Linked DNA regions of Homo sapiens: regions 1, 3 and 4 are each linked to region 2. The links come from fine-mapping of genetic effects on gene expression. A gene starts in region 2. Each other region holds a variant in brackets. All regions are shown on one strand. Distances are between the middles of the regions.

Region 1 (8,112 bases), 89 kb after region 2:
CAGGTTCAGCAAAAGGTAAGTTATTAGTTAAAAGTTGCAAGTTGCATCCTCCACCAGTTTTACCCTATGTATCCTGACACATATAAGCACTGCCTTTGTCAATGAGTTTCCTCACTTATGTCATTCATAGTAGATGCAGAGATATCCAAACCAATCATCCCAGATAACTTAATTTGAATTTATGTACCTGTAATTCTCTGGGCACACTATGTTCAGTTCTAGAAGTCTTATGGGATCAGTTGACACTTACCTTTCCCAGGTGCAAAGGCATCATACTGCAGCAGTTCCTTATTCATATACTTCTCAATTTTACATTTAAAAATAGGAATTTTTTTATTAAAATGAATAAACAGATATACATTTAAGGATCAAAAGTTAATTGAATTGAAAGTCGATTCCATTGACCTGGGATTTGGAACACAAATCAGATAAAGTCATTATTGTCCAAAAACACGCCACTTACCTCTTTTCTCAATTTTGCTTGTCTTACCTTGCAAAAGGCTTTCAGGTTTACAGTGGCATCTTTTATCAAGTACATTATGTTGTGCTGGTGGCTGAAGAAATAAGAATTTTTTAAAAAGATTGATTCTGTTTTTAAATTTTGAAACACTAAAAAAATTAATTAGGTTGAATCATATAAAATTTGCATTTTTATAGATCAAAATCGTTTGATACTGGCAGTTTCATATGGCTCACTATATAAAATTAAATGAGACCTTTAATTTATATTCTACTTTTCCTAATTAATGACTGTTAACATTTTGGGCCAGATGCAGTGAGTCCCTGCCTAAAAAAAGAAAAAAAATTGGTTATAGAAGCTTCTACTCACTTTATTTTTATTTATTTATTTATTTATTTATTTGAGACAGAGTCTCCCTCTGTCACTTAAGCTGGAGTACAATGGCGCAATCATAGCTCACTGCAGCCTTGAGCTCCCAGGCTCAAGCAATCCTCCCACCTCAGCCTTCCCAGTGTCCGGGACTACAGGCATGTGCCACCACACCCAGCTAATTTTTGTATTTTTTGTAGAGACAGGGTTTTGCCATGTTGCCCAGGCTGGTCTCCAACTCCTGGGCTCAAGCGATTTGCCCTCCTCGACCTCCCAAAGTCCATTATAGGTATGAGCCATTGCACTCGGCCCTCCACTCACTTTTTAAATGAAATAAGCCATTACAGATCAAGTTAAAGCCCCTTTTAATACCACTCCAGACCCCTGGTTCTCTCTGTTCCCAGAGGCAATGTTATCTGAATTTTATGGGTATTCTTCTCATCATTTCACACACGGATACCAAAATGTAAATCTATTTTCATTCATGTTTTTCTTATTCATTAATGTTACTTTAAACCTGATTGTCCTCTCCTGTAAAGGAGGAAAGGGATGGACTTTGACCGGCTCTTAGACTTTTACCCTGTTTCTTTTTCTCGTTTTTTTTCTAAAAAATTATAAAATATCTTAAGAAAACCTAAGGCTCTCTTTGAATTCTCTGTTTGAGGAGTTCTCAATAAATCTCACAGAAGACACCTACCTCTTAACTCTTGAACTGCATAAGGAAGGCAGTTCAAGCCCTTATAACCCAGGGAAAACTAAATTCTCATTTCTTCTTCTATCTTTCAGCCTCCTCTTAATCTCAAATTTCACATCCACCAAGGAAAAAATGTATTCTTTCTAGATGCATCTTATTTTTTTTATCAGTGAGCCTCTGTTATGATGTTAATAAAATAGTGACATGACCAAATATTGAAAGAATGAAATGACCTATGAATGGGCACTAGCATGTATGGTAAGATAATATGGACCAAATCAGAAAGGGAAAAATTTTCTTTCCCACAATTCCAACCAAAGCATCCATGAAAACAAAGACAGACTAATAAGACTTTCAATGTTAAAAAAAAGAAAAAAGTTGGAAGGAATACTGCACTTGGTGAATTCCTCTGTTTGATCCGAATGGGGTTGGAACCCCTTTACAAACTCTTTTTCATGATAGTCACGTATTTAAAGTAACATCACATCAACTTCTCCACACTACATAATTAGAAATGCTTTACCCCTTTCTCAATTAATATCAAAGTTATAATATATACAAGATTTTTAAAGCTTCTTTGTTTGAATCCTGAATTAATTTATATACTCATATTTTGGATCCCAACTGAAGCTAATCTCTATAATATTATAATGGGGTAGTAAAATTCATTTTTGTAACTATGGCATATTTGAATGTTGAATAATTGTATTCCAGTATGTCTTTTCTCTTTGCTAGTTTGCTTTATTCTTACCACATTTGTATTGCAGCCTTCCTTGCTTCACATTAATAAGTGTGCTACAATGATGTTATAATCGTTTTTAGCAAAGAGAGATTCTGCATGAAACATTTTTATGACTTCTCAATATGGCAAGTTTAGGCATTAAAGTAAATCTCTCTGTCACAATTAATGTTTAATCTGGATTTTTATAATACTAACAGACATACATTAGACTGTGTTTATTTAAATAAATGCCATTCTCCCCAGGGGTTCACAGTCACTGTGGTACAACTCACTACACTGATGGTTCAAAGTATTTCCTGTTTGTTATTCTTCTATCTAATGGCTGCTGTAACCACTGAACTTCCTTGAATAAAATATTCTTTCTTTTTTTTGCAGTTGATGAAGTTTAGAATGCTCAAAGAAGGACTAGTGATTCAAAATGCATTGACAATCTGGAAACCTGAGCTAAATTGATCCATAATGGCATATCTTTCCTTAGACTAGGTCATCTAGTTTAGTAACTACCCTGCCAATCTCTCTATCTTTTCTATCTTCATGGAAGTTTCTTGTTTTTAAATTTTCCTTTAATGGGAAGTCAACCAAACTGTTTTGAAAAGTTGGCAGGTTCTAGGAAATATGCTGGAAAAAATAAGAATATAAAGAGTCTGATCCAATTTAAATAGAATATTAAAATGGAAGGGACCCCAGAGATTGAATGTTGTGTAATAGAAATATATTATGTGCCATATATGTAATTTAAAATTTTCTAGTAGCCAATTAAAAAGGAAAAAGAAATAGGTAAAGTTATTTTTAATAATATTGTATTAACCCAGTGTGTCCAAAATATTGTAATTTCAATATAGAATCAATACAGAAACATTAATGAGATATTTTACATTCTTTTTTGTAGTAGGACTTTGAAATCCAGTGTGTAGTTTATGCATCCAGCATATCTCAATGTGAACCAGCCACATTTCAAATGTTCAATAGCAGCATGGACATACAGGCTATCATATTGGGCAGTGATGACCTAGGCAATTGCCTGAGTTTTATCAATGTAGAACATACCTCAAGAGAGGACAAATGGCAGACCCAGGGTGTCAGCCAGTCAGTGCCAGATCTCAACCCAACATTCTGACTCACAGTTCAGTGTTCCTGCAAGCACAGTGGTAAAATCACATCCGGGGCTTTGATGACATTGCACTAGGTACTTTATTATTACTACTTAAAGCAACCTTGCACGAGCAAGAGTTTATCCTCATTTTAAGGATAAGATACAAAAGCTCAGAGATAAGGAATTACCTCCTCAGGCTTAGATCTGAGACCTGTTTTGTCTGACCGCAAAGCCTGGG[C/CT]TTTTTTTTTTTTTTCATGCATCCCAATGTCCTTTCTCTCCAATCTAAGACCCTTTAAGACCGTGACTCCAAGTGTGGTCTGTCTAAGGAGCAGCAGCATCTGTTGCCTCCAGGAGCTTGTTAGAAATGCAAAATATTGAGCCCTGCTTCAATACCCACAAGGCTGCATTTTATCAAGATCCCAAGTGATTCATGTAAAATCTAAGCCATCTCAACAAAATACAAATCTCTCTATAAATTAAAAGAATTTCCTGGGAAAATGGATTTGTACCCTGTCAGACATATGGCAGATAATCAGAAATAACTTTTGGATTGAATTACATCATGAGAAGAAAAGAACTAGCTTGGACATTTAAGGAAGGAGAAATAAAAATAGAATTTTTCATTAAAAATGTGTTTCCAGAACTAAATCTTGAAATTATAAAATGCCTTATCAACCATCACAACACCTGTCTTCTTCCCTCTTAATCTCTTCCACTCTTCTTAGGTCATAGGTACGTAAACCTTTGTTCCCACCAAATTCATTGAATGACAAGGAAATGTTAATGTATTTGAATGGAAGTGTGGCAACATTACACAGGGAAAAGTGGTATAAGGGTATTTTTGCCACACGAAAAAGCAACGCATCAGCCAAATAGAATTGACAAGATGTGCAGTTCATGGCAGGATTTGCAGGTCACCATGTTCTACCTCCCATGGAGCTCTGTCCATTTCTTGAAATTAGGCTCCAGCTGAGATTTCTTTCGTGTTCCTGAAAGTGGCTCTCGCTAATGAGTCAAAGGTTGATTGTGTATTTATCCTAAGCCTCTTCAGTCACATTTTCAGTATTTTCCTTGTGTCATGTTGCCCTCAACTCTTCCTTTCATTCAGTGTCAGGCAGTAAATTAAGCAGATGTTAATCAGTCTAGATGTTTTGGGTAGAAAATGAATGGTGTGAATACCGCAGGTCATCTCCAAAAGGCTGAATCTGTGGAACCCTGTTCAGTGAGGTGTTTTTCCCTCTTTCCCATTTCTTAACTCAATGGGGCATTGCTGGCTATTTTTGTCCTTTAGAAAACAACAGCAATGTGATATATAATAGCAGGGTTCTAACCAATATTTCATTGTGTCACACAGGGACCGCGCAAACTGTGTGTTAAGGAGATGAACAGTGGCATGGCGAAAAAACAGGCCTGGCTTATAAAGAACAAAATCAAGGCTTTTTATGCTGCAGTGGCGGCAGACTGTTTCAGGGATGGTGTCCGAAGTCTTCTTCAGGTAAGGCTGCATTGAGGGAATGAGCACAGAGGCAAAAGACAATTAGTGCTCCATGTTAATAAGGCTCCCAAAGTGAACAGCTGTAGTTAGGCAGCCAAGCATCAGAGATCAGTGCAGATGGTTAAGGGATTATTTTGAATTCCTGGGTATAGGCAAAGCTAGAACAAAAGCAGAGAAGTTCTATTACAATGAACTATGAATGATACACTGGAAACGGAAAATGAGGTTGCCTTTGGCCACCAGCATACATTCTGCCCCCGTACTTATTGAAATGCAAATTTGTTCTGGTGGTTGACGACATTCAGGATCCTATTGAAACTTCAAACTATTTTTATATCTCATACTGCATATAGCAATGCTCAAGTCAGGCATTCTTTTCCTTTTTTCTTTTGCAAATGGTGTTAGGGCAGCTGCTAGACCAACTAAATTAATGCATGGTGATCTGGGCATAAAATCTCCCTATCCTCCTGAATTATTTCCAGAATGTTGAATAAAATGTAATAATCTCTACAGCTCAACCTTAAATCCCATAGTTCTCACATCTTTTTTCCCTTATTTTTTCCTTTTTCCTTCATCTCTGCTATAGTAAGTACATAAAATCTTTTCCTAGTTCTGATCGTCATAATTTAGAGTGACAAAGAATCCTTAAAACAATCCAAGAGACCCTCAGAAATTGTAGAGCTTGGCTTTCCGAGCATTTTGGGTTTAATATGGTTGAAAACCCTAATTATATATATATGAAATGGTGCATTTGGCTTTCAGAGTTACTGTATTTCAGAGTGTCAGAAGTCAGAACTGCATCCAGGTAACTCAGATGCGCATGCAGGCAGGAAAGAAAAAATATTGGTTAAGCTTAATTGGTAATATTTTGGAGCTTAAGAGTATTTGATGCAATCCTGTGCCTAATTTCCCTTAAGAACACTTGCGAAGTAGATGCACGTACAGAGAAACAATTTCTGCAAAACCTATTACCCACAATGAGCCTCTTTTCATCTGTTATTAATTTGCTAAACCATGGAAATAGGTGTTATTGCAAGATGCTGATTTTTCTTTCAGTACCAAGTTAGTTTTCAATAGCTCTTTGGTTAAATATGTTGTCACTATTAGTCATTTATTATAAAATTATCATACAAGATTTTAAAATAATATTTTCAACTAGGAATGGGAATATGGACATAAAATAAGAGCAGGGAAAGAAAAGACACAAGTATGAAAAAGAATTATTAGAATCCAGAAGAAATGGTAGAAAATTTGAACATGCATACATTCATATGAATTTCTTCACATAAAAAGTGAAGTACAGGAGAACCATGGCAAAAGGACAAGACATAGCACTATGCAATTCATAGGTGCTTAGTAATATTGTTGAATTAAATTTGATTAACTGGAAGCTGTATGCTGTCATCTAATGAAGGGAAACAACACTTCTGATATGGAAGATGGCTATTAATGATACTGTCACATAAAAGAATTAGGTTTTGGAAACATAATTCAGTCACTCTTCAATAAATAACATAAGTAGAGATTTTAGTGATCCTTGTACATAAGAATTTTCCAAACATGGATTTTATTGCTAATGACATTATGGATATAACAGGTGGAATTGAGCTTTGAACCACTAAGTTACAACATGCATACCAACAGTTAAGCTGACCCTCACTTGATTTTAAATTATTGAACCATTTTAATGACTGTGTCAGAAGAAATGCAAATGACTGCTAATTTAGAAAAGCTACATTTCTGTCATCTAAAATCCATTTATAGCTGGGATGATTTAGAATTAATCTTTCCATTTTATGCTTGGGTACGGGCATGAAGGACATGCACTAAAATGTAATCTAATCTTCAGGATCTTCAGAACATTACTTCAGTGCTCCTTTAGACATTATTTTTCATTTGTGATGGTAGTTTCCCAGTACGGTAAGGATTGCCCACATTTTTATGTCCTCTGTTTAGGCCTCAGGCTTAGGAAGAATGAAACCAAACACTCTGGTGATTGGATATAAGAAAAACTGGAGGAAAGCTCCCTTGACAGAGATTGAGAACTACGTGGGAATCATACAGTAAGTGATGGCTTTCAAGACGTGTTCTTGTTTATAAAGCACTAAGCAGGGCAGTACATAACTTGTACTGCACATAACACTGTTGTGTCAGATTAAATTGCCTGAGAAGAGTACATTCCCCTGGTACTCTGACTTCTTTTCCAAGGTGAAAAAAACACCACCAATAATAGAGTTTGAGGGAATCAGAGTGTCAGAGGAGGCAGGGTGAGAGAAACGCCCGTGTCAGAGAAAAAAGTAAATGTTTAGAGTTACAACCTTAAAATCTATTTACAAGATTAAAAGGAAAGCACAGCTAAGCAAGGAGAAATTTTTCTTTCAAAACACCTGGAATCTTGGGTTGGCTGGTGTCTCCAATTCAGTCATTGTCTTCTTCTGAGCCTCTGATAATTCGTTCACTATCCCAGAGCCCTATATCTCCCTCTGCTAAGAGGCTCCCATATGCCAGGTGCTTCTGCTACCAGGTGGAGCATCATTGGCTTGTGCACAGAATGTGAGTTTCCGGTGGTACATAACCTCTAATAGCTAAATATTTGAGGAGACTTAGGATGTAAGTAATAATGATAGATCTTAAAGGACTAGCAGGCTGCAGGCTAATGTCTTTAACATGTATTATCTCATTTAATTCTCATAAGAAGATTTCGAAGGAAGTACTAATATTTTTTCCCATTCTACAAGTGGAGAAAAAGACATTAAAAATTAAGTAGCATGCTGAAAAATCTCAGCATTTAGTGACAGAGCTGGAATTCCAACCCAGGACTATCCAAATTCAAAGTTGAAACTCATGACTATAACGCTATGCTTTCTCTATATATTATATACTCCAAAACAAGTATTATATATTTTATACTATATATATTATATATTACATACTCCAAAGTATTTCATATATATATTATATACTCCAAGTATATATATATTATTTATATATATACACATACACACAATTGTGGAGTATATAATATATAATACTTATGTGTGTATGTGTGTATATATATATATATATATATATATATATATATATACACACACACACACATAATACTTGGAGTATATAATATGTAATATTTGGAGTATACATATATACTTCAAGTATTACCTGGCTTGGTTTCTTCCTTTGAATAAGAGAAAACAAATTCTACACATACAGAGAGAAACACTGTAGAAAGTTGAGCCTTTCAACCAGGCATGGTGGCTCA
Region 2 (8,112 bases):
ACACATCCCCAATATATGGTAAACTAATCCTTGACAAAGGCACCAAAAATATACAATGGTGAAAGGACAGTCTCTTCAAAAAATGGTATTGGGAAAACTAGATATCCACATACAAAACAAAATGAAAATGGATTAAAAACTTATAACACCTAAAACCATGGAACTCCTAGAAGAAAACACAAGAGAAAAGCTCCATGACCTTGGCCTTGGCAATGATTTTTTTTTTTTTTGATATGACACCAAAAGCACAGACAACACAAACAAAAGTAAACAACTGGGACTACATCAAAGTAAAAAGTTATTGCACAGCAAAGGAAACTCAACAAAATAAAAAGGCAACCTAAGAAATGAGAGATAAAATTTGCAAACCATATATCCAATAAGGGATTAATATCAAAAATGTATAAGGAACCCATACAACTCAATAGCAACCCAATTTAAAAAATGAGAAAAGGATCCAAACAGATAATTTTTCCAAAGAAGACATACCAACGGCCAAAAGGTATATGAAAAGGTGCTCAATATCACTGTTCATCAGGGAAATACAACTCAAAACCAGACTGCAATATCACTTCATACCTGTTAGGATGACTTATCGAAAAGTCAAAAGATAGCAACTGTTGCTGAGGACGTGGAGAAAGAACCTTTAGATACTGCTGGTGGGAATATACATTGGTACAGCCATTATGGAAAACAGCATCAAGGGTCCACAAAAAATTAAAAACAGAACTACCACATGATTCATCAATGCCACTTCTGGGTATATATCCAATGAAAATGAAATCACTATCTCAAGGAGATATCTGCACTCCCATGTTCGCTGCATCATCCACAATACCCAAGATATGGAAACAACGACTTAAGTGTCCATTGACAGATAAATGATTAAAGGAAACATGATATATATTATATTTTATGTTTACACAACACATCCACACTGGAATATTATTATTCAGCCTTACAAAAAGAACAAAATCTTGCCATTTGCAACAACAGAGATAAACCTAGAGGACATTGGGCTATGTGAAAAAAGCCAGACTCAGAAAGACAAATGCTACATGATCTCACTTACACACAGACTTTTAAAAAAGTCAAACTCAGAAGCAGAGAGTAGAAGGGTGTTTACCAGAGGTGGAGGGCAGCAGGGGATGGGGAAATGTTCTAAGGGCACAAACTTTCAGTTATAAGATGAGTAAGTTCTGTAGATCTAAGGTACAGTATAGTGACTATACTTAACATATTTACTGTATACTTGAAATTTGCTTAAAGAATAGATCTTAAGTATTTTCAACACCAAAAAATATGGTAGCTATGCGAGGTAACAGATACGTTAATTAGCGTGATTGTGGTAATCATTTCACAATTTATTTGTATACCAAACCATCACACTGTACACTTCAAAATATACAATTTTTGTCAATTTACCTCAATAAAGCTGGGGGAAACAGTTCTAGTCTTTATTCCTAATAAAAATCACTCAGCTAAAGAACACATTACCTTGCTCCAATGCTTAATATTTTATAGTACCCTAATATAACTCTCAATCTCTACCTACTCCAAAGTTATACTTAATTACACATGAATAATAAAGTTATAATAATACTGCTCTTTTCCCTCCTATTCATTTTTAAGAAAAGGAGAGCTAGTATACCATTTGGCGTTAAAGAAGAAGACTACAGTTGGAAAACGGATCTTTTCTAAAGGTGTGAATATGCAAACTAAATTCCCTGTATATGAGTTTCATAAGCATGAAAGTTCACTTCTGCATTTCTTCCACAAATATTTACTAGGCCTTAAGAATACAAAGAAGAATAAGACATAGTGGTCTCCCACCCTCAATAACTATGGATTAACCTCAGCAAATATTATTTCAATCCTGATGACAAGCAGTACTCTGTTCAATTCCAACCAATACATAATTTGGGGCAATATTATGGTAATTTTTATAATCAACAATGAATTATTTTTATTATTAAAAGTATATGGTAATCAACTCAAGGTTTATGTATTGGGGTTGTTATCCACTCCTACTAGTTCACGAAGTAAAAAAAAAAAAAAAAAAAAAAAGGACTAGGTCGCTAGTTATTCAGTTTGAATGACTCATGCTGGACCATCACAAATCTTCTTATGGAATAGACAGTAAGAGAAATCCCTGAGAGTAAATTGGACTCGATTCAACTTCTGGGAAAAAGAGAAAGGGAGAGGCGAATTATAAGCAATATGGAAATAATCTGTATTTACTAGTAATATTTCTTCATTTCTTCACCTTATATTTTTCTCTTCCTAAATTAGAAAAGGATTCTTTCTCCACCTTTCTCCTTTCTCTTTTCCTGTCTTGCTAAATCATGAAGAGACTTTAGAAGGGAATAGAAAATCTGATGGAGGTTTAGATACCAAACTTCCCCTATATCAAAACTAATCATACCCAAGTATAGGAGGGCTTCTCTCTGTAATTCAAGGCTGCACTTTTTGTTCAGGAGAAAAGGTGGCATGTATACTCGTGTTTAGATATGAATAGCACATATTTTTAAGTTTATCATTCCACCGGTTTTCATTTCTATTTTTAATGCCAAATTCCAGAAAGCCCACATTTTGGCAAGCATGGTAGAAAGCACTTCATTCCCTTTCTGGTTCCTCAATTACTGAGGTGCACCACTCTTCATCCAGGAATAAACTCCACTAAGTTCCAATCTCTTATACCTGCACCTCTATTCTCCTAGAAGATGCTGCCGATCCTGTTCAAACTCATTTGAGAGCAAGAGTGTCAAAGAGCTGGGGAGAGCTACCCCATCTTTTTTGCCACCAACTTTTACACAGACTGGTCCAGTTCTTACCATACAATTTCAAACATGCTTATACAAAGGTCAGAAAGACCTTTCCCTTGTCTATTTTACTGTGAGCATATATCTATTGCTTTCTGCTCTGAGGCATAACAGAGAAGGAAAAGGATGTTTTCACTTAATTATTAACATACTTTCAACTTCAGGTTTAAGGAGGTAGGCATATGAAAGTAAGCGCTTAACTTCATATCCTCCCACAGGACAGGAACAAAGGAGAGCATAACATTTCCCTAGAACCAGAAATTATTATGGATTGGGGTCAACTAAATTCTTTATAGGCACTGGTGACAGCTGCGACCTTAAAAGTCTTCCTTCATTTGGGAAAAAAAAAATCTTAACCATCTATTATACCAAACTTAAGATAATCATACACTGAGTTAAAAAAAAAAATACTCTCCACAGCTGACGCACATTACCCAGTGGGAAGGGAAGCCACGCACATCGCACATTTCCCTTTTTAAAGTACGTCTAGCCAATTCAAGAGTAACACAAAACATAGAGTCTAACAGCACATTATTAAACTTCCTCTCGGTATAAATCAGTTTAAAAATGAACATACACTTTAGAAAACAACAAAACACTAAACTTGTGAAGCTCAGAAAGAAGCCAGGAATATTCCTTTTAAATATGTTCTCGGTGGTTAAGAGGAAATGTCCGATGATGTCATCCCTAGATACTCCCTAGTGATGAACACTAACTACTGGTCCTTAAAGGGGGACCATTTTCCTGCAAACCGTGGCGGTCGCTGAGCTTTGCTCAAAGATTCTTTAACCAAAGTCAGGGAAGAGGGGTGTTCGCTGTCTCGGGCTAGAAATCAGGGAAGAGCGCTGGTCCCCGGGCCCCCAGCCCCGGCTCCCAGACCACAGGCGGCCAGGCCTGGGGCGGGCGGGGAAGGGCCTGGGAGCGGCCCAGCTGCACCTGCTCCTCAGGAAGCCGATGGCCCGGGGGCGGGCCGGGGTCTGGGGGTGGTTGTCCCCCATCGGGGCACAGCCCGGCCTCTAGCCGCCCGGTAGACTCCCCGCCCCCCACCTCGCCCCGGTTCCCGGAGGAAAAGACAATACATTTTAACGCCATTGGAGCTGCTGCTGTGCTGCGGCTGCTGCTTCTCCGCCTCCGCGGGGTGCGGCTCTCGCCGCGGCTCGCCCGGCGGCTCTGCGGGCTGCAGGTGCGGGCTGTCGCCACCAGTGGCCCCGGGCACCTCGGCCTTGTTGGCGTCCGCCATCCCGCCGCCGCTGCCTCCGCCTCGGCCGCCTGAGCTGAGGGGCTCCGAGCGCGACAATGGCGGCTGCCGGGGAAGCGGTAACGGATCCCGATTTGAAAAGGCCCCGAGCGCTCAGTAACCCGGATCTCGCGAGAACCGGTCGAGACTGGGTGACTGGGAGATGGTGTGTGCCGGGTGCGGGGGGTGGGAGTGCGGGGGGAGGGGAGCCATGGGAGCTGGGGTCAGGGCCGCTGTTGCTGCAGTCGGCCCTACACCTGCCTGGGAGGGCTGGACCAGTCCTGAAAGCCCCCGGTGGTGGTGCCATGTCTGCCCACCAGCCCGCCTGTCGCTTGGCACCAGTGGAGTCTTCGCTTGCAAAGCGGGATTAGACATCAAAGCCCTAACACCCAGACTGTTCAATTCATTCCAGGTAGGGGCAGTTAAAGAACACACCACTTTGCATCTTTAAAGACTTCTTGCAAGTCCTCAGACTGCCTTTAGAAATCCTTTGAATTAAGCAAATATAAGTCTCTTGCCATTTCAATGCCTAGGCACCCTTCGGACATTCCATAAATAGTTATTGATGACTGATTGCAATTCACCAAAAGGAATGACTTTGAATTTCTTTGAGAATTATTTGTTCTTAGGGGGTGAGGATTTCCCAGGAACTCAACTATCAGCTTAGTAAGAGAAGACTGCAGTTTTTCTCTGGACATCAATCAATATGGGGAATCCATAATTATAAAATATCGTCTACTAGATGGGCTAATAATGGACATTTGAGGTTTTGACTGTGTGTTTATTGTATACTGATGGAAATTCTAGTGAAGTAGTTAGTTATACGCTCTCAAATTTAATTGCCATATGGAGTTTTAAAATACAGTCGTAGATTTTTCCCCCTAAGTATGAAAAGGAAACCGTTAAATTTAATCAACTCCTAATTCTCGAGTACTATAATCTTTCACATTGACATAACCTTTTTCAGCTGAAAAGTTTAAATGCCTTCCCAAATTTTTTTTCCATGAAGAAGCAAACACGTACAGTTTAGTCACTTTGCAGAATATCATACACACATCAGTGGTAAAGTTATAGTTAGAAAGTAATACTCAAATAACATAATTTCATCTTCGGCTTTTCAATGTGTAGTTTCCTACCCTCTACCGAAAAATACCAAGTTCAGCTACTTCATCACACACACACATACACACACACACATACACAAACACACACACACATAATCAGAACATTTTAATGATAAGAATGCTATTGTAGTTGCTGTATAAATTGTTTCTCATTCAACTCTGAGACATAAGATTTATAATCGCAGAAAGGGCATTCAATTGTGACAGACAAAATCTGGGTTAGAACCCCAGCTCTGCCTCTTTTTGCCCATAACTCCCTGGGCAAGTCACCTCATTTCTCAATCTCTCTACAATAAATAGGGATAGCAATACCGACCTTACAGGATTGAGGTGAGGATTAAAAGAAAGCACTTTATGTAGGAAAAAGTGCTATATGAACATAATGTAATATTACAATTCTCTATCTCCCTAAGCTCAGCAGGGTTTTAGTCAAAGACAAGCCAAGTGATTTTTCCCACAGCACTAAATTATAAGTACTTTCAAAATAGTCATCATTCTGTTATTCTTTTGCTATTGTTGAATTCAGTATGAAAATTGAACCCCACCATCACCAGTACAATATATTCTTGCAAAAATCCTTTAATCAACTCAATGCAAGATTTTTTTAAGAGGCCTTTATGCTTCAAACAGAGTAGTAGGTACATGAGGAATACAAAAATGAGTACAGCCCTGTTGGGAGAGGGCTAATGTAAAAAGTACTATTTAAGTGCTATAATACAAATAAAAGCAAAGTATAATTAAAAAATTATTTACAAAAACAGGAGACTGGCCCACATGCCTTAGTTTGCCAATTAAAATATTCCATTAAAATATTTATCTTGATTACTGAGTTTTAACTTTTGTACCCAAGACAAATGCCTCACCCGCTGTAGCTTGGTTCTAGTCCTGATAAAGAGCAGAGGTTAATTCCTACTGAGAGATTGGTGAGGGCCTTATAAAAGAGCTGGATCTTAAAAGACAAAGAATTAAGGCAACTTCTGAAGGGAAGAGAATGATTAATCTTTACCATTCCATCTGACTGCTCAATAGATTGATCTTTCCTTCCTTTCTTGCTATTAATTGCAAAAGATAAAGAAAAAACTATTAATATTCTGTTGCTGAATTCCATTTCTGTATTTGCTTGTCTTCCTCTCTACTGTTTTGGTTTGTTTTGTTTTGTTTTGTCTTTTTTGAGATGGAGTCTCGCTCTGTCACCCAGGCTGGAGTGCAGTGGCGCCATCTCTGCTCACTGCAAGCTCCACCTCCCGCGTTCATACCGTTCTCCTGCCTCAGCCTCCTGAGTAGCTGGGACTACAGGCGCCCGCCAGCAGGCCCGGCTAATTTTTTGTATTTTTAGTAGAAACAGGTTTCACCGTGTTAGCCAGGATGGTCTCCATCTCCTGACCCTGTGATCTGCCTGCCTTGGCCTCCCAAATTGCTGGGATTACAGGCGTGAGCCAGAGCGCCCGGCCTTGGTTTTTTGTTTTTTGTTTGTTTGTTTTTTAGTGCATGTAGGTACATTGAAAAATTCTTAAGTGATGCTCAAATTCTTATTTTCCCATGATTCACATTGCAAAAGCATTATCCTTTGCAATTGCACAAAATATATTACTGGTACAACTTCACATAATCACTTAGTTTTCTTTCTTACAAATTAGAATGCATGTTTATGTGTGTGTACCTGGCGGGATAGGGGAAAAGCTATTACACGTATCTAGAAATCTAATCCTAGAAATCACAAAATATTTTCAATTAATACCTTAATATATGTATCACTTAGGAATTGTGTTCATCTGCTAATAACAATAACTAGAAATAATAGTGTCTTAAGCAAGATATACATTTTTACTCTCTTAAGTAAAATAAATGCAGAAGGAGCATCCCAGAGGATATATAGTAGCTTCACAGTCATCGTGAAGTCAGGTTCCTGCTACCTTAATCTTTCGCCATCCTAGTGTGAGGCTTCCATTCTTAAGGTTGCCCTATGACCCAAGATGGCTGCTGGAGATCGAGGCACCTTGTCGGCATTGTAGGTCAGAAGGAGTCCAGAAAAAAAGGGACCTATCCAGAAGTCTCACACAACACTTCCGCTTATGGGCAAGAACTTAGTCACATGACACACTCATCTGTGGGGGAGGTTGGCAAATAATTTGGGGGCTGGGCTTACTGCCCAGGGTTCTGTTACCAATGAAGAAGAGAATGGATGTCATCATTCTTCTTTTTTTTAATTTATTTTGTCTTTAAGAATTAAGTTTTAGGGATAATAATAAAATTTAAAAGAAAAAGAAACTAGACAAAAATGGTGGCTAACATTTCTATGGTGACAATAGCTTCTAAAAATACTTCCATATTTGTGCTGATATTCTAGCCCTAGAATTCATAATAAATAGATTACCTTCTCTGGGGTATTCAGAAACTCAAAAAAGAAAAAAGAATTAAACGGCAAAGACCAACAATATGAAGTAAAACAAAAAGTATGGTATAATTTTTAAGTCAATTTGCTTCACTATATAAATTGCTGGATTTGAAGGCATGAAGTTTCTAAACCTTACAAAGTAAAAATTTACCTCTTTAAAGCTTAAAAAGGAATTCGTAACTTTTTAAAATACTATGGTTTATATTTGAAATCTACATATGTATTTCCCTTTTTATAGAAAGTTCATTCTGTGATGAAAATGTGGACATTGGTTACTATCAAGTAGAAAGTAAAGTTTAATCTTATTCTGACGATTAGCTATTTACCATTCTCTCTCTTCTTCTCTTTTCCTCCTTTCTCTCTCTCTCTCCCTCCGTATCTCTGTATCACCCCCAATACACCCTCATTACACCACAGCTCTGCTTACTTTAGGAGTTCTTTTTTTTTAGCATTTAGCATTCCAAAAATACATCCTATACAAAGGTCTCTACCAGCTAGCTAAGTGAAGTTTAGAATTAAGACAATTATCTGAAT
Region 3 (8,112 bases), 130 kb after region 2:
CACATTTACAAATAAGCAAGGGACTTTGGGTTCAACTTTGGGAAAGAATGTCCTTTAAAACTCTAGTATGGTAAATTTTTAATTACAATACACATATCTATTTGTAGTAAAATATAAACCACTCAAATTAACTCAAAAGGAAATAGAATACCTGATAAAATCTAATACTTCAGGATAAAACACGAAGATTGTCAAAGATCTAGCTCAAAAAAGTTTCAACCCAAAGGATTTTTTCTAGGCAACTTCTTTTAAACTTTCAAAGAAAATATAATTACCATTATATTTAAGCTATTGCTGAACAGAACAAGATAAAACATTGTCTTTCCCTTTCTCAGTTATTTTGCAAAACTAGCATAAACTTGATACCAAAATATGACAGACCACAAAAATAGGATACAAGTCAATTTCTTGTATGAATAAACATAGGAAAATCCAAAATAGAATACTAGCAACTCAATTTTACCAATGTATTCAAACAATATTCCACTATAATCAGGAATATGGTATTCTAGGAATACAGATATATCTTATTGCTAGGAAATCAGTTAATTTAATTAATCCAATTTAGTGAGCATTAGTTACCATTTACTTATTCATATTTTTTGAATATTTATTTGTAAATGCATAGTGTACCTCTAGAAGAATGCATAAGAAACCAATTAGGGTTGACTTTGGAGAAGAAAACTGAATGAAGGACAAGTAAGAGATTTCATTTTTACTATATACAATAATAACTACTCAAAAACTAACATTTAAATAATTAAATCCATAAACAAGCTACTTGTCTGCCAGACTGTATTTAATGATTAACTCATGTTTGATCTGACATATATTGTGAAGGTCATATATAATAAATTTCTAACACTCAAAAATATATTATACCATCATTATTGTGTTGTGCTTATTCGTAAAATAAGTGAGCAACTAAAACGTCACTGTAAAAAGAAAAAGTTGACCCCATCACATACCTACTGATAAGCTTAGGTTTTTAGTTTTGTTTTTTTTTTAAACATGAGATCTTTTAAAATATATATATGCCTCTTTCTTGGGTGGAGAAAGTGATAGAGAAATATTGCATCAGATTTACCACTATGGCCCTGCAGACATTATTTAGGTCAGTAGGTTCATATTGCATATTTTACTTTCTGGAACTCAGGAATAGACAAGTATAATCTTGTGCTGTGTTTTGTTTTGTTTTGTTTTGTCTGGAGACAGAGTCTCTGTTGCCCAGGCTGGAGTGCAGTGTCGCAGTCATAGCTCACTGAAGCCTCTGAACTCCTGGGCTCAAGTGATCCTCCCACCTCAGCCTCCCAGGTGGCTGGGACTACAGGTGCAAGCCACCATGCTGAACTATTTTTTCGTTTTATTATTCCTTTTTCTATAGATGGGGTCTCACTCTGTTGCCCAGGCAGGTCACAAATTCCTGCATTTAAGCAGTCCTCCCACCTCAACCTCCCCAAATGCTGGGATTACAGGCAGCAGCCACCATACTCAGCCAAGTATAATCTTAATAGGTTCTGAGTTTTATTTTCTGGGCCAAATAAAACTCAGAATTGATATTATCCATAGTAGGATAGGGTAATTATTATAATGTGACTGAATTGTGTGAATCTATGCATTATGAGTATAGTATGTTCTTTCATCCTTTTAAACACAAAACCCAAGTGGGATGTGTATTAATTTTCTACTGCTGCATAATAAATTATCACAAACTTCATGGTTTAAAACAGTACCCATTTATTATTTCACACTTTCCATGGGTCGAGAGTACAGGCATATCTTTTATTTTATTTTATTTTATTTTATTTATTTTTTGTAGAGACAAGGTCTTGCTATGTTGCCCAGGCTGGTCTAGAACTCCTGGCCTCAAACAATCTTCCTGCCTCGGCCTCCCACAGTGCTGGGATTACAGGTGTGAGCCCTATGGCTGGCCAGACATATCTTAACTGGGTTCTTTGCTCAGGATCTTACTATACTGGAATCAAGATTTTAGCTAGGGCTACAGTCTCCTCTGAGGTTCAGGATCCTCTTCCAAGCTCAAGTGATTGGCAGCTGTATTAATTTTCTTGCTGCTATAGAACTCATGGCAGCTTGCGTCTTTAAGGCCACCAGGGAGAAATCTTTAAACTCTAGACCCTCTGTTAAAGGGCTTACCTGATTAAGTCAGGCCCACTTTAGTCAATCTCCCTTATGATTGAACTTAAAGGCCGGGCATGGTGGCTCACACCTGTAATACTAGCACTTTGGGAGGCAGAGGCTGGTGGATCACCTGAGGTCAGGAGTTAGAGATCAGCCTGGCCAACATGGTAAAATCCCATCTCTACTAAAAATATAAAAATTAGCTGGGTGTGGTGGCCCGTGCCTGTAATCCCAGCTACTTGGGAGGCTGAGGCAAGAGAATTGCTTGAACCCGGGAGGCAGAAGTTGCAGTGAGCCAAGATCGCTCTACTGCACTCCAGCCTGCCCAACGGGAGCAAGATTCCCTCTCAAAAAAAAATAATAATAAAATAAAATAATTTTTAAAAAGATCAAACTTAAAGTCAACAGATTAAGGATTTTAATTATATCTGCAAAAATTTTCATCTTTTCCTTATAAAGTAAGCTAATAATTAGAGGGGCACCCCACCATACTCACAGGTCCCTCCCAGACTCAAGAGGAGGAGATTACACAGGCCATCTTAGAATCCTGCCTTCAATATTGCTATCTCACATTTCTAGAGATCATATATATCAGCTATGAAGAGCCAAGCTGGGAGTTAGATAAGTTAAAAATGGTCCATGAAGTGTCCCCCAAAAAGTTCCACTCTCTGTGCATGCACAATAGATCATATTCATTTGGAGGGATATCTAGAACCATAAAAATAAATTAAACCTGAAAAAGACCTCAGAGATCCTCAAGTACTAAAATGATGTTTCCATACAGAACATTTGCACACAATTCTAGTTACATTGTTTTTCAGTCAACAAAATGTTAAATGAGCAGTAACTAGCCATAAGTGACACCAGGGATAATGCAGCAAAACATGAAAAACTTTTAACAAAGGAAATATAGAGCACAAAATTGCAGCAATCTGAGGTCAAAAACGTGAAAGAGATTCTACACACCCCAGTAGAGCTTGAGGACATCATTACTTTGTAAGAGGACAGACTAATGGCAGAAAAGCTCAATTTTGTTCCATGTATCCTGGTTAAGAAAGCAAGGATACCTGCACTGCAATTCACCCTCAGAAAAATTCTCGTCCACATGGCTGGCATCAAAAGATGGCTAAGCTTCAGTTATCTGGAAAATTAATTTACATAGACAGACTCTTTCTGCAGTTAAGCAGAGTATATGGAGCTCCAGTGTAAGATTTAAACAGTATATTTTCAGGTTAAGTAATTTAAGATGAGGAATGCAGAAAGGAGAACTTCTCAGAGGTTGAGGCCAAGAACCAGGTCATGAATGTCATTGCTTCAGAGAAGGTGACAAGCAATGACAACTGGGATAAGAAGACTAATTTCCTCCTCAGCCTGGGAGACATATTGCAGCAGAGGGTAGTTTGGGACAAAACTCAGCAGTTGACTTTGAGAGAAAGGCATAAGTAACTGCTAAACTGTGAGACTGCTGCAGACCCTGGGGGCTCAAGCCCAACCCTCTGTTGTCATGCAAGCCCCTGTTCTCACACAGCATGGCTTTCCCAGACTTTCAAATCTGGATCATCTGCTCTTTTCGATGCCCAAGAGATGAAGAAAAAGAGACTGACTTCTCTGTTATTATGTACTTGCACTTTCTGATGTTCCTATTGCACTTCTGCCCAACAAAGAGGTGGTAAAATTATTCTCAGGGAAAGTGAGAAGTTCAGAGGAGTAAGAAATAACAGGTATTTAAAGATGTTAGGCCAAGCACGGTGGCTCACATCTGTAATCCCAGCACTTTGGGAAGCCGAGGCAGGAGGATAGCTTGAGCTCAGGAGTTCGAGAACAGTCTGGGCAACACAGTGAAACCCTGTCTCTACAAAAAAAAAATAATAATAATAATAACAAACATTAGTCAGGTGTGGTGGTGTATGCCTGTAGTCCCAGCTACTTGGGAGGCTGAGGTGGGAAGGATCACTTGAGCCCTAGAGGCGGAAGTTGC[G/A]GTAAGTTGTAATTGCACCACTGCACTCCAGCCTGGGTGACAGAGCAAGACTCTGTCTCAAAAAACAAAAAACAAAAACAAATACAAAAAAAAATATTAAACAACTCCAGCTGCTAACACAACACGCACATTGGAAACAGATCACCATACTGTGATTTCCTAATGCTCAAAGATACATTTACAAAATGAATTCTACTAAAAAAAAGTATTATTTGTGCACTTTTGACTTAATGTGTCCAAAAGTGAGCTCTTACTCTTCCTTCCCAAAGGTGCTCTTTAACACTCTTCCTTCATCTCCATGCATGACAATGCTATCCTTGCCATGAATCTTCGAGTCATCTTTGACTCTCACACGCACATCTGATTTATCAGCAAATCCTATTGGCTTCAGAATATATCCAGAATCTACTCACTTGTCACCATCTCCACTTCTGCCTCTCTGACCCATGTTGCCACTGGACCATTTCTCACCTGGATCACTGCAGGAGCCTTCTCAAGGGTCTTTCCACATCAGGCCTAGCTCCTCCTCTGCCTCATTTCAACATCTTCTCAAAGGTCTTTCCACATCAGGCCTTACTCCTCCTCTTCCTCATAGCAACCCAAGCAATCCTGCCAAGTAAACTAGAGATTGTCATTCCTGTTACCAAAATCTTCTAATGGCTTCCCATTTCAGTCCATGGAAAAGCCACTGTCCTTACAAGAGCTTACAAGGCCCTACCCCTGCACCCCATCCACCTATTTCTGCGACTTCAACACCTACAACTGTGTACGCCTTCCTCTGTCACTGTTCAGACCACACTGGCCTTCTTACAGGTGAGTTTGCACCCTGGGACCTTAGTGCCTGCTGTGTCCTCTGCCTGGAATGCCCTTCCCCAAGATATCACTTCCTTCAAGTTAGGTAAAACAACCCCCAGCCCCCAGCCCCACAATCAGCAAATAGCATGTTCTCACTGAGGCCTTCCCTGGCTTCCCTCTCTGAAATCAGAAGTCTAAATCCCATACCTCCCTCCCTGCTTTACTTTTCTCCTTAACTCTCGGCACTACTCATTTGAATCACATCTTCTATCTGTTGTCAGACTTATTTTGTCTGTTCTGTTCCCTGCCATATCCTCAAAGTCTAGACCAGTGCCTGGCACATGGAACACATTCAACAGATATTTGTTGGAACGATGAATTAATACAGGGCACTGAGGGGACATGGCAAGTATGAAACTCCTTTGGGGTCTGGTCTCTGACTCACTATGAAGCCGCATTCTGCCCTGCTCAGGGCCCTTCCACACCAGCTATGCCCTGACGCACCACACACTCTGTACTCTCCAGAGCTCTGAATATGCTTATCCTGCTGCCTGGGATTTCTGACTCTCTCTCTCTCTCTTTTTTTTTTTTTTTTTTTTTTTGAGATGGAGTCTCGCTCTGTCACCCAGGCTGGAGTGCAGTGGCATGTCTCAACCCACTGCAACTTTTGCCTCTCAGGTTCAAGCGATTCTCATGCATCAGCCTTTCAAGTAGCTGGGATTACAGGCATGCGCCACTATGCCCGGCTAATTTTTGTATTTTTAGCAGAGATGGAGTTTCACCATGTTGGCCAGGCTGTCTTGAACTAATCTCAAATTATCTGCCCACCTTGGCCTCCCAAAGTGCTAAGATTACAGGCATGAGCCACCGCACCCAGCCTCACTCTTTTTTTTATGTTTTTGAGACGGAGTCTCACGCTGTTGCCCAGGCTGGAGTGCAATGGTGCGATCTCGGCTCGCTGCAACCTCGCACTCCCGTTCAAACGATTCTCCTGCCTCAACCTCCAGCGTAGCTGGGATTACAGGCACCGCCACCACGCCAAGCTAATTTTTTAATTTTTAGTAGAGACAGGGTTTCACCATGTTGGTCAGGATGGTCTCAATCTCCTGACCTTGTGATCTGCCCACCTCAGCCTCCCAAACTGCTGGGATTATAGGCGTGAGCCACCTCGCCCAGCCTCTTTTTTCAATCACTGTTATTTTTATCCTTATTTAGTTCACTACTATACTCACTTTCTCTTGAGTTGATTGGCCATCTGGTGTCAGTTCTTTTGTCAATTGATTCAACAAAAATGTGTCAGGCTGTAAAGACACAAAGATACACTGTTCTGAGCTCTTAAGATATTGGCATCCACATTCCCTGCCCTCAAAAAGTTAAAGGTTTAGACAGACAAGAAAACAAGTTACACATAATAATTACAAATTGTGAAAAATACTGTGAAGGAAATAAAGAGAAAGTGTTGAGACAGGATAACTCTGTTGACCTTGATGCCCTTTGTGGGCGGGAACTGGAGAGGCTCCTTTCACTCAGCCCACTGTCGGCCACTCCTCCCAAAAGAGAGCCTGCGAGCAAGCGAGTGCAGCAACCGGAGACAACACTGGAACTGGCCCATTACTCCTCTCTGGCAGGAGCACGCTCTGTGCAGGCCCTATAGCAGCATCCAAGCCCCTGCCCTCTCCGTACCCGGGCATCCAGGAAGAATCAGGCCACAAGAACGAATAGAAGGGTGGTTGGTGTATGCGGAGGATTTTACTGGGTGATATAAGTGGCTCTCAGCAGGATAAGGAATTGGAAAGGGGATGGGTGTGGGAAGAAGGTGATCTTTCCCTGAAGCCACACTGTCTGAAGTTAGCCACATCTATCCATAGTCTTGATGCTCAGCAGCTTGTACCCCCACCGCTCCGCTGCTTGTGTTGCTCTGCCAGTTGAAGTCTTTTTATGTCAACAGGATAGGGGCGTGGCAGGCCAAAAAAGTAACATTTGGGTGGAAAAACAGGGTCAGCTATTTTCACTTAGGGCTGTGGTTCCAGGCTTAAGGGTGGGGTGGGGAGGGGGTTTAGCCAGGAGCCCAGCTGTTCTGTATCAGTGTGACAGAGAATAATGGAAATAGTAATACTTTATTAGGGTACTCAGTGAGGATGTCTATGAAAAACACATAAGGATAAGAAGGTGCTGACAGTGTTGAACTTTACCGGAGCCCTGTGCTCCTGGAACACAGCAATCGTTAAGAAGTCTCCCCAGCTTTCTGTGTTCTAGAAATGGCTAACTGAAATCAACCACCATTCCCTATATGACTTAGACAAGACACTGCCAACTCTTTCTCATGATTCCTACAAGACTGTAGATGATTCCTTTGTTTACCTGTGACAAGGTCAAACCCAGACTTTTCCCCTTTAAACTGAGCCTGCACATAAGGTCAGACAGACACCTTCTAACTTTATTCTTTGTCTCATGGATGATTAGCTGAGATAAGTTTTGTCCTCATGAAACTAACTAGACACAGAAATAAACAATCCCAACTTTAAATTTACTCCACCTATAACTTGTCTACTCTTCCCTATAAAAATCTAAGACAAGGCCAGGTGTGGGGACTCACACCTGTAATCCCAGCACTTTGGGAGGCCAAGGTGGGCAGATCACTTGAGGTCAGGGGTTTGAGACCATCCTGGCCAACATGGTGAAACCCAGCCTCTACTAAAAATACAAAAAAATAAGCCGGGCATGGTGGCGGGTGCCTATAATCCTAGCTACTCAGGGGGCTGAGGCAGGAGAATTGCTTGAACCCAGGAGGCAGAGGTTACAGTGAGCTGAGATCACACCACTGCACTCCAGCCTGAGTGGCAGAGTAAGACTCTGTCTCAAAAAAACAAACAAACAGAAAAAATCTAAAACAAAACTATCCTGCTAGATACACTGTAGTAGGCTGAACACGGCCCCTGAAGATATCCAGGTCCTAATCCCTGAAATCTGTGAATTTTACCTTACATGGAAAAAGGGCTTTTGCAAATGTGATTAAGGATCTTGAGATGAGGCAATCATCCTGGATTATCTGGCTAAGTCCTAAATAAAAGCACAAGTATTTTTTTAAATTTAAATTTTATTTTACTTTATTTTATTTTAAATTCTGGGATACATGTACAGGATGTGCAGGTTTGTTACATAAGTAAACACATGCCATGATGGTTTACTGCACCTATCCA
Region 4 (8,112 bases), 36 kb after region 2:
TTAAAATGAATCAAAGTTCTTTTTTAAAAAGACCTGAAATTCTATCCCACAATACTCTACCACGTCACACATGATAATTTTTAAATCTGCCTCCTTTTTTAAAGTTAGTGTCACAATTTAAATATTATCATTCACCTACTTCCCCAATTTACAACAAAAGAAAATAGAATTCTAACTTCATTAAAAAAGAAATGGGATAAATTCACATTGTTCTTAGGACTGACATTCCCGACAGAGAAAAGTAGCTTATTTATAATTGCAAAAGCCATGGCTTATGTAAATCTTTCAATAAAGGGAGAAAAGCTCTGAAGGAACAGGTGTTTAGAAAGCCATCTAAAGCCTGGGTGTGGTGGCTCATGCCTGTAATCCTAGCACTTTGGGAGGCTGAGGCTGGTGGATCACCTGAGGTCAAAAATTCAAGACCAGCCATGACCAACTGGTGAAATCTCTTCTCTACTTAAAAAAAAAAAAAAAAAAAAAATTAGCCAGGCATGGTGGCACATGCTTGTAATCCTGGCCCTGGGAGACTGAGGCAGGAGAATTGCTTGAACCTGAGAGGCAGAGGTTGCGGTGAGCTGAGATAGTGCCACTGCACTCCAGTCTGGGCAACAGGAGTGAAACTCCATCTCAAAAAAAAAAAGAAACAGAAAGCCATCTAAATGACCACACAGTAGGAATGTTATAGCTGCATTAGATAAATGTAATAGCTGTTTGGAATATTGTATCACTTTTGAAGACATAAAATGAAACTAAAGACTGAACTTCGACTTAAAGCATTTTTTTTCTTAGACACAAAGGAATGGCAAATTAAAATATTAAAAATTAGGCCTAAGCTCTGAATAATCATTTTGAAAGTGTATAGTAATAAGCTACTCTTTTACAGACTTGATGCTCAGTTATCTAGGACCCTTCATCTTGATTAAATCATGAAGAGGTATCCACATAGCCAAATTGGGAGTAGAATTCAGATTCAACCACAGAATCTACAATGTGCACATTTCTGCAGCCAGGCCCATTCTAGTGTTGCTGAAATTGTATGGCCTAGCCTGGCTCTCCATGTGTAGCAGTCTGGGCCTTCTTTAATTTATCTTTTTATTGCTTGCTAATGAATTTGACTCAGCTACTCTCCTTACTTTTCCCCCCTCAAATATAAGAAGTGAAAACCTGCAATGTGCTGTAGCTGTGCTGCCACCTCCTTGTGGCCCTTGACATTTTTATGGTAGTTCCTCAAATCACAACTAGAAATCATCAACAGAACAAACATTATGTGATTATACTCAGACCCTTCACAGATTTTGTATGCAAAAAATATAAATAATAGTGTTTACTTAAATCATTTAAAAGTAGAAGGTAATTGACACAGTACAAGCTAGACAATACTTTTTGTAACTATGATTAGAATGCTTTTAAAAGTTATAATAGCAATAGCACATTCATACCGAATGGCAGAACATGGTTAGTCAGAAAACCAGTTGGATTTTGCGTAAATTTTGGTTATAATTTCCAAGTGAGAAAAAAGTTACATGACAAAATTATACTAATAGGTAAAATAAAAAACAGGTTTGAAAGACATTATTTTAAGGCTCTACCTTAAATGAAACTCTAGTTGTGATAGATATTGACAGAATTTATAATCCCAATGACTTGAGATCGTAATTGAAGAAATTCTTTTTATTATCTATGTTAGTAAAGAGCTAAATACCTATACTGGTGACCGTTAATTATAAATTTCTGAAAACTCTACTTAAAAGCAGGAGAAACAACTGTCCTTTACTTGCTCTCTACAAGCTATTGTATGAACTACATAACTTCTACTTATCTTGCAAGATGCTTGTGAACATTAGTTTCTATAAGTATAAAGTCTACCCTTACAATGAGTAAGAATTCAATAAATGATCGATGATGATAGTGGTAATTTTTATACTAGCTTTTTATTTTAACAGAAAAATAAATACAAATAAAATATTTAACAAATACTAAAAAATATGTAATAAAATGTTTCTCTTCTAACATCAATATTCAGTTATTCTCTCCAGGACAATCATTACTAACAGTTTCTTGTAAATCCTTCCAGAAATGTTCTAGGCTTATATAAACATACACATATATCTATAAATATCTGGATTCCTATCAATCTAACTTTCTGTTTATATTTATTTTCAAACATGTACCAGACGTATTTTCCACATTGTTCTGCACTCTGCAGTTTTTACCAAACATACCCTCGAGATCTTTCCGTATTAAAGCATATGTAATAATTATTTGACATCTGGCAAAGATTAATCTAGTGCCTTTACTTTGTAAAGAGAATTTTGCTTTCAGTATCCAGCCTAATTCCTGTGACCAACTTTTCATATCCAATTCCTTACTACAGGACTAACCAAAATGGAACTCCTTTTCAGCCTTACTAACCACCATTGTTGTTAGCATTTCAGAAAAATATAATTTAAAAGGATTCAAGGAAATATATAGACTTTCTATCGAAGCCATGTGTCATTGAAATAAGCTATCTATGAAAAGTATAAAATACTATAAAATTAAGACAAATATTATTCTTAAAGAAGCTAACTCTATAGAAACTAATCCAAAAAAAAATCAATGAAATGACTATATTTGGATCATTATGCTGTTAACAACTACAAATAATTCGTAAATAAAAGCATTAACTTTAAATGCAGTGTAGTAATAACCAACTTTTTGTTGAGAACTTGTTATGTTTCAGACACTGTGCTCACACTTAAAAAATTCTCACTCAATCCTTAACAACAACCCCTCAAGGAAGGTACTATTATTATTGCTTTTTTATGGATGGTGAAAGTTTTATAAAATGCTGTGGATCTTTTAGAAGAGAAAACAAAGGCTTGCAAAAGTCAATGAACTTCCAAGGTCAAGAAACCAAGGTCACATGCTCATAAGTTGAACCCATGTCTGCAGGACTCCAGAGTCCTTGATCTTCAGTTCTACTTTCCATCCTCAGTCTGCTTTCCCTTGGCACTTTTCATTAACTCATTCAACAGCTGTAGAGAATGGTGGGACTCAGGCACGAAGAAGAAAATCACACTCTGTCATGATGGGCTGAGCAGGAGGTACTTCCTTGTTTCAGTCCTTTTTTCTGAGACTGTGACAAAAGATTGTATTGCTTGTCCTACA[G/A]AATTAATTATGTCTCAATCATTTTCATTGTCACCATCAAAAGCATTTATTAAGCATGTATTTACAAGAGTTTCTGTGTAAAGTGAGTTAAAGTGACTTGACCTCTTTCCTCTAGAATTTTTTTTTTTTTTTTTTTTGAGACGGGATCTCGCTCTGTCACCCGGGCTAGAGTGCCGCGGCGCAATCTTGGCTCACTGCAAGCTCTGCCTCCCGGGTTCACACCATTCTCCTGCCTCAGCCTCCTGAGTAGCTGGGACTACAGGCGCCCGCCAGCATGCCCGGCTAATTTTGTTTTGTTTTGTTTTTTGTTTTGTATTTTTAGTAGAGACAGGGTTTCACCGTGTTAGCCAGGATGGTCTCGATCTCCTGACCTCGTGATCCGCCCACCTCAACCTCCCAAAGTGCTGGGACTACAGGTGTGAGCCACCACACCCAGCCTCCTCTAGAATTTTATAAGTCAAACGACATCGTTATGGATACGAATAAAGGAAATGTAGTCAAGTTAACAAACATTAAACCACATAAATCAATGTATTAAAATATACATTAAATGCTTATCTTCTATAAAAGGACAAAAATGTACGAATGTTTTCTCTAGAAAATAACCTTTTCTACAGTGTTTCAAAGTTCAAATTTGCAACTTTAGCATTCAAATTGGGGATATCTGAAATTAGAAATAATTACTAAGCTAACAACAGCCAAATAAAATAGACATTAAAATTGAAGCAATAAATGCCTTAAAGTCCAGTGACCAGAAGCCACCCTTAAAATATTTGTTGGAGTGAACCTCTGCAACTAAGAGTTCATTCTGATACTTTAGTTAGAGTTTCTTAGTACTCAGGGCCAGTTCCCCGGGGAGCTCACACTATTAAAACAATCTCTGGGAAAAAAAACAAAAACAAAAACAATTAATTTTTTATTATAAATAGTTTAGTAATACATGGCAAGAAGAGCAGTAGTTCCCTTAAACTTATACTTGGAAAATATTAAGAACCTTTCCATTTTCTTTTTCATATGCCAGTTTATTGCACATAGCTAACTTTTGTCCTAAATTATCAAAAACACAAGTCAATTTGTGTGTGAGATATGTGTTTTCAGCTATAGTAAATGCACTATGATTACAAATTGTGACCATTGGTAGTGATTTATAGGCATAATGTGTAATAACTTTCAAAACAAGAAAAAAAGACTTTCATTTTCATAATTTAAAATATTGCCTTTTATCACAAAGGGATAGAAATGTATAAACATAATAATATTGATCAGTAAGGTATGGAAATATGGTTAGAATCATATGTTTTTCATTCTGAAATGAAGCTTAGGAATCATCTGGTTCTTACTGGGATTGGTTTTTAGATAATTGAGTGGCAGGAGTGGGAGGGGCTTAGGTTAGGTGGAACAAGTTTGGCCATATGTTGATCATTGTTGAAACTCAATAATGAGTACCTGAGATTTATTTTGTTATTCTCATTACTTTTACATATGTTTGAATATGACAATAATAAAAGAAAGTTTAAAACAACAGGGGGATCATCTAGGTGTGAATATTTATGGAACTGTCTCTCGGTGGTGGTCTAAAAATTCTATCAACCTGAGATTAAAGGATCAAAATTCAAAAGAATGTATAAGTAGCAAATATTATCTAGTTGGAACTTAAAGAATAAATATATTTATTTTCCCTGCTTTGATGATAGACATAAAGATGTAAGTAACAAATAGTATCTAGCTGGAACTTAAAGAACAAATATATTTATTTTCCTCAGCTTTGATAATAGCTATAAAGGTATCTGATATGTTTCTGGGGTCTGAAAAATCACATTACATATTAAATAAAATAATTTAATCTTTCATTATCAAGAACTCATTGCCCTTTAAACTGCATGTGATTGAAGATTCATTAGTTGTCAAAATTGGAGTGGGGATAATCTGTTATCAAGTGGTCTTCCTTTCTTTTCATTTTTTAAACATACTTTATTTTACTTTTCCTGAATCCTTAACACACAGTTAAAATTCTTAGTAAATAAATAATCATTCCCTAAAGCTACATAATTTAGAATACATTTATAAAAGGTTATGGGTCATCATTTATGGTAATGGGAGTGTGAACAAACAAATTAATTCAATGTATGAAGGGAAAAACTGGTTTCAGGCAGTAATCATAAAACTTTTAGTCTTTGAGACTTTGGCCTCAAGAACATGAACCAGCTGGGAGACTGCAGGCCACCTGCTACACAGCTCATAGCCATCAAGTCCCCACAAACCCTCCACCCAAAGTCATGTTCAGTACTTTGATGATGAGTTTACAACTGCTGTTCTGATTTACTAAGGAGGCATTTATTAAAGAGTGAAACAAAGGTTTGCTTTGCCATGTCAGAACTGTAAGATGGCAAACAGAGAAAAACAATTTTGCCTTAGAGTAAATTACTTCAAGATAAGATTTTCACAAAATCCACTGGATTTATTCTTATTGGCAGTATTCAAGCACGGTTAAACACCTTGATGGAGGACGTACCCTGAATGAATTGCACAACCAAAACTAGATTCCAAGTATCCTAGTTTATACGGTGCAGGATTTTTTGGCTCCTACATGAGAGTAAGCAATGGAAATGGCTTCTGTGCTTGTAAATTTACTGTCAGACCTTAATAGTCAACAAAAGAAGTATACATTTGGGGTTTTTTTCCCCTCTATGGTATAAATATATTTAAAACTTTGAAATTCTAGCAGGTTGAACATATTATTAATACCTAAGGGAGAGTTGAACACCCTACATTGACTACACCTTTGAATAATTTAGAAAATGATTGCTTTACTAACTTGCACATATAGTGGTTTCCCTGTCATCCTCTCATAGAATATTCTTTTTGCATCATATTGTGAAATCCTAGTGATAAATTGAAGAACCATTAAACTGTGACCAGGAAGGGCATCCATCAGGAAGGAAAGTTCATTTTAGAGGAAATTTTAAATACCCTATTCATCCTTTAGCCTACTTTGTAAGATTTGTTTACAGTCTTGGATATTCTCATCAATTCATATCTAAGGGTCACAATCACCATTGGAGTTTATCAGCTAGCAGAGCAATTTCCCAGACCAAATCTTCAAGTTTAATCAGAAAACATAGGTTTTATTCCCAAGACCATCTTTAAAAAAGGCAAGCAACTAAGGCTGTGTCTCTTGGGATCCCCAATTAATCTACACAAAGAAAATTGCCCTCTCCCAAAGTGAGTAACTACTGATGGTCTGGCTATGGGATTTTGATTAACTAGAATATTGACAATTTTTTTTAAAGTTTTTCTCAAATCAAACTAAATAAATAGATCTCCTAACAAAATAATCCCTTCAATAGTCATGGACATTTTAACACATTCCTCAATTCCCTGCTCTCATTGATTATACATTTCAGTTATGAAAAAAATGAAAGTTACATTTGACCTATTCAGCTGCCGTATGTGTATAGAATTCTTTCAGAGAAAAACAGAATTTTTAATGGACTGGAAAACAGCCTCAAATGTTTCATGCATCTGAAATTGACTGCATTGCATAGACCTATGCTGTCCAATATGGTAGCCACTAACCACATGGGGCTATTGAGCACTTGGAACATGGCTAGTCCAAATTGAGATGTACTGCCAGTGGAAAATACACACTGAATATCAAAGACTTAGTATTAAAAACAGAATGTAAAATATTTCCTAATATTTTTATACTGATTATATATTGAAGTAATATTTTATAGATATTCTATTAAGTAAAATACATTACTAAAACACTCCTGTGATTCAGTTCCCTACAAGTTGGGGTGCAACTATTGCTAATAAATACTTATATTGCAAATATTAGAAATATGATATTCTCCAAAGATTAAGTATATCTTTAAAATGTAAGGGTCCATCTCTAAACCTAATTACTGCACCAATTTCTTTTTCCTTTTTAAAAAGTAGAAAATTTTGAATTACATACTTGGTTTGCATTTATAGCTGGTATAGATGACCAGTTTCTGCCCCACTATGTTAGCCTCAATTTTTTGGACTGCGTTTATTCTTACATTGGTGTGAATACATTATGTTAGCTTTCAATTATTTGTGCAAATAAGGACTGAGGATATCTAAGATTAACATATTCCTCAGGTAATTAAAAGCTAAATTTTAATTATTAACTTCAATCTCCTCTGTTATTCCATTTTTTCCCAATACTGTCAGAAAATAATAAAATAATCTGTCTTAGGATTCAGTCCCTTCTTCTTCCCTTTTAAATGTGACCTACCCAGAAGAAACAATAAGAAATGAGCTGTCCCATAGAGATGGAAGATAAAAGAAGTAGGAGGCAAGAATGGATAAGAAACTAGGATATCTGCTCTTAAGGGGTAGAGATCACGAACTTTCAAGTCCACCTTCTGAATTCAACATTGTTTTGTTATTGTTGTTTTTGTTTGTTTGTTTGAGATAGGGTCTCACTCTGTCACCCAGGCTGGAATGCAGTGGCACAACTGTGGTTCACTGCAGCCTTGACCTCCCTAGCTCAAGCAATCCTCCCACTTCAGCCTCCCAAGTAGATGGGACTAGAGGTGCATGCCACCACACGCAGGTAATTTTTTTTCTATTTTCTGTAGAGATAGGGTTTAGCCATGTTGCCTAGGCTGGTCTCAAACTTCTGGGCTCAAGCAATCCTCCTGCCTCAGCCTTCCAAAGTACTGGGATTACAGGCATGAGCCACTGCACCTGGCTGATTCAGCATTGTTTATTGATGGCCTGCTACATGCCAAGCCTTTGGCTGGTACTGAGAAAAAGTAACCCACAATTTAGAATCATCCTATAATAATGGTAATTAAGTGCTGAATCTTTCTCTGATTCACTTGTCACACAATGACTCTTATGACTCTGTATTATGCTGCTTATCCAAGTGTCACAATAGTATCATGAACAAGGTCTCAAGAAAGAAGAGTTTGAGGAGAAATCCTTACA

Which allele goes with the higher level. Positions count from the first base shown, and alleles are read on the strand shown. Sizes are in standard deviations (SD) of each study's normalised expression. Not every link is listed here.
In carriers of allele A in region 3, the expression in whole blood of the gene that starts at base 4,120 in region 2 tends to be higher than with G alone (large effect, 1.1 SD a copy in Lepik 2017).

The links. PIP is the estimated chance that this variant, and not a neighbour inherited with it, causes the effect.
Region 1: its variant is the best candidate, but not a certain one, in a credible set for the expression of MYEF2 in whole blood (INTERVAL, PIP 0.89).
Region 3: its variant is the best candidate, but not a certain one, in a credible set for the expression of MYEF2 in whole blood (Lepik 2017, PIP 0.71).
Region 4: its variant is the best candidate, but not a certain one, in a credible set for the expression of MYEF2 in whole blood (TOPMed, PIP 0.60).

The regions. Positions count from the first base shown.
Region 1 is chr15:48,262,849-48,270,960 of GRCh38, forward strand. SLC12A1 (solute carrier family 12 member 1) reads left to right here. Exons shown (of 27, transcript NM_000338.3): 18 at 4,713-4,853; 19 at 6,810-6,916. Among named protein-coding and RNA genes, the nearest start is that of SLC12A1, 61 kb to the left of the region's middle. RefSeq lists a silencer at 3,290-3,490. The variant C/CT (reference allele first, on the strand shown) is at 3,597.
Region 2 is chr15:48,174,176-48,182,287 of GRCh38, forward strand. MYEF2 (myelin expression factor 2) reads right to left here and starts at 4,120. Exons shown (of 17, transcript NM_016132.5): 1 at 3,902-4,120. The coding sequence starts at 4,062. It also overlaps a transcript of CTXN2 not described here. RefSeq lists silencers at 3,462-3,631, 3,662-4,091, 4,262-4,361 and an enhancer at 4,064-4,715.
Region 3 is chr15:48,308,751-48,316,862 of GRCh38, forward strand. It overlaps DUT-AS1 (DUT antisense RNA 1), which reads right to left. Exons shown (of 3, transcript NR_186809.1): 2 at 6,145-6,213; 3 at 1,718-3,991. LOC124903486 (a long non-coding RNA gene) reads right to left here. Exons shown (of 2, transcript XR_007064625.1): 2 at 7,974-8,112. Among named protein-coding and RNA genes, the nearest start is that of DUT, 19 kb to the right of the region's middle. The variant G/A (reference allele first, on the strand shown) is at 4,118.
Region 4 is chr15:48,210,235-48,218,346 of GRCh38, forward strand. The region is part of intron 2 of SLC12A1 (solute carrier family 12 member 1); the gene reads left to right. Among named protein-coding and RNA genes, the nearest start is that of SLC12A1, 8.0 kb to the left of the region's middle. The variant G/A (reference allele first, on the strand shown) is at 3,151.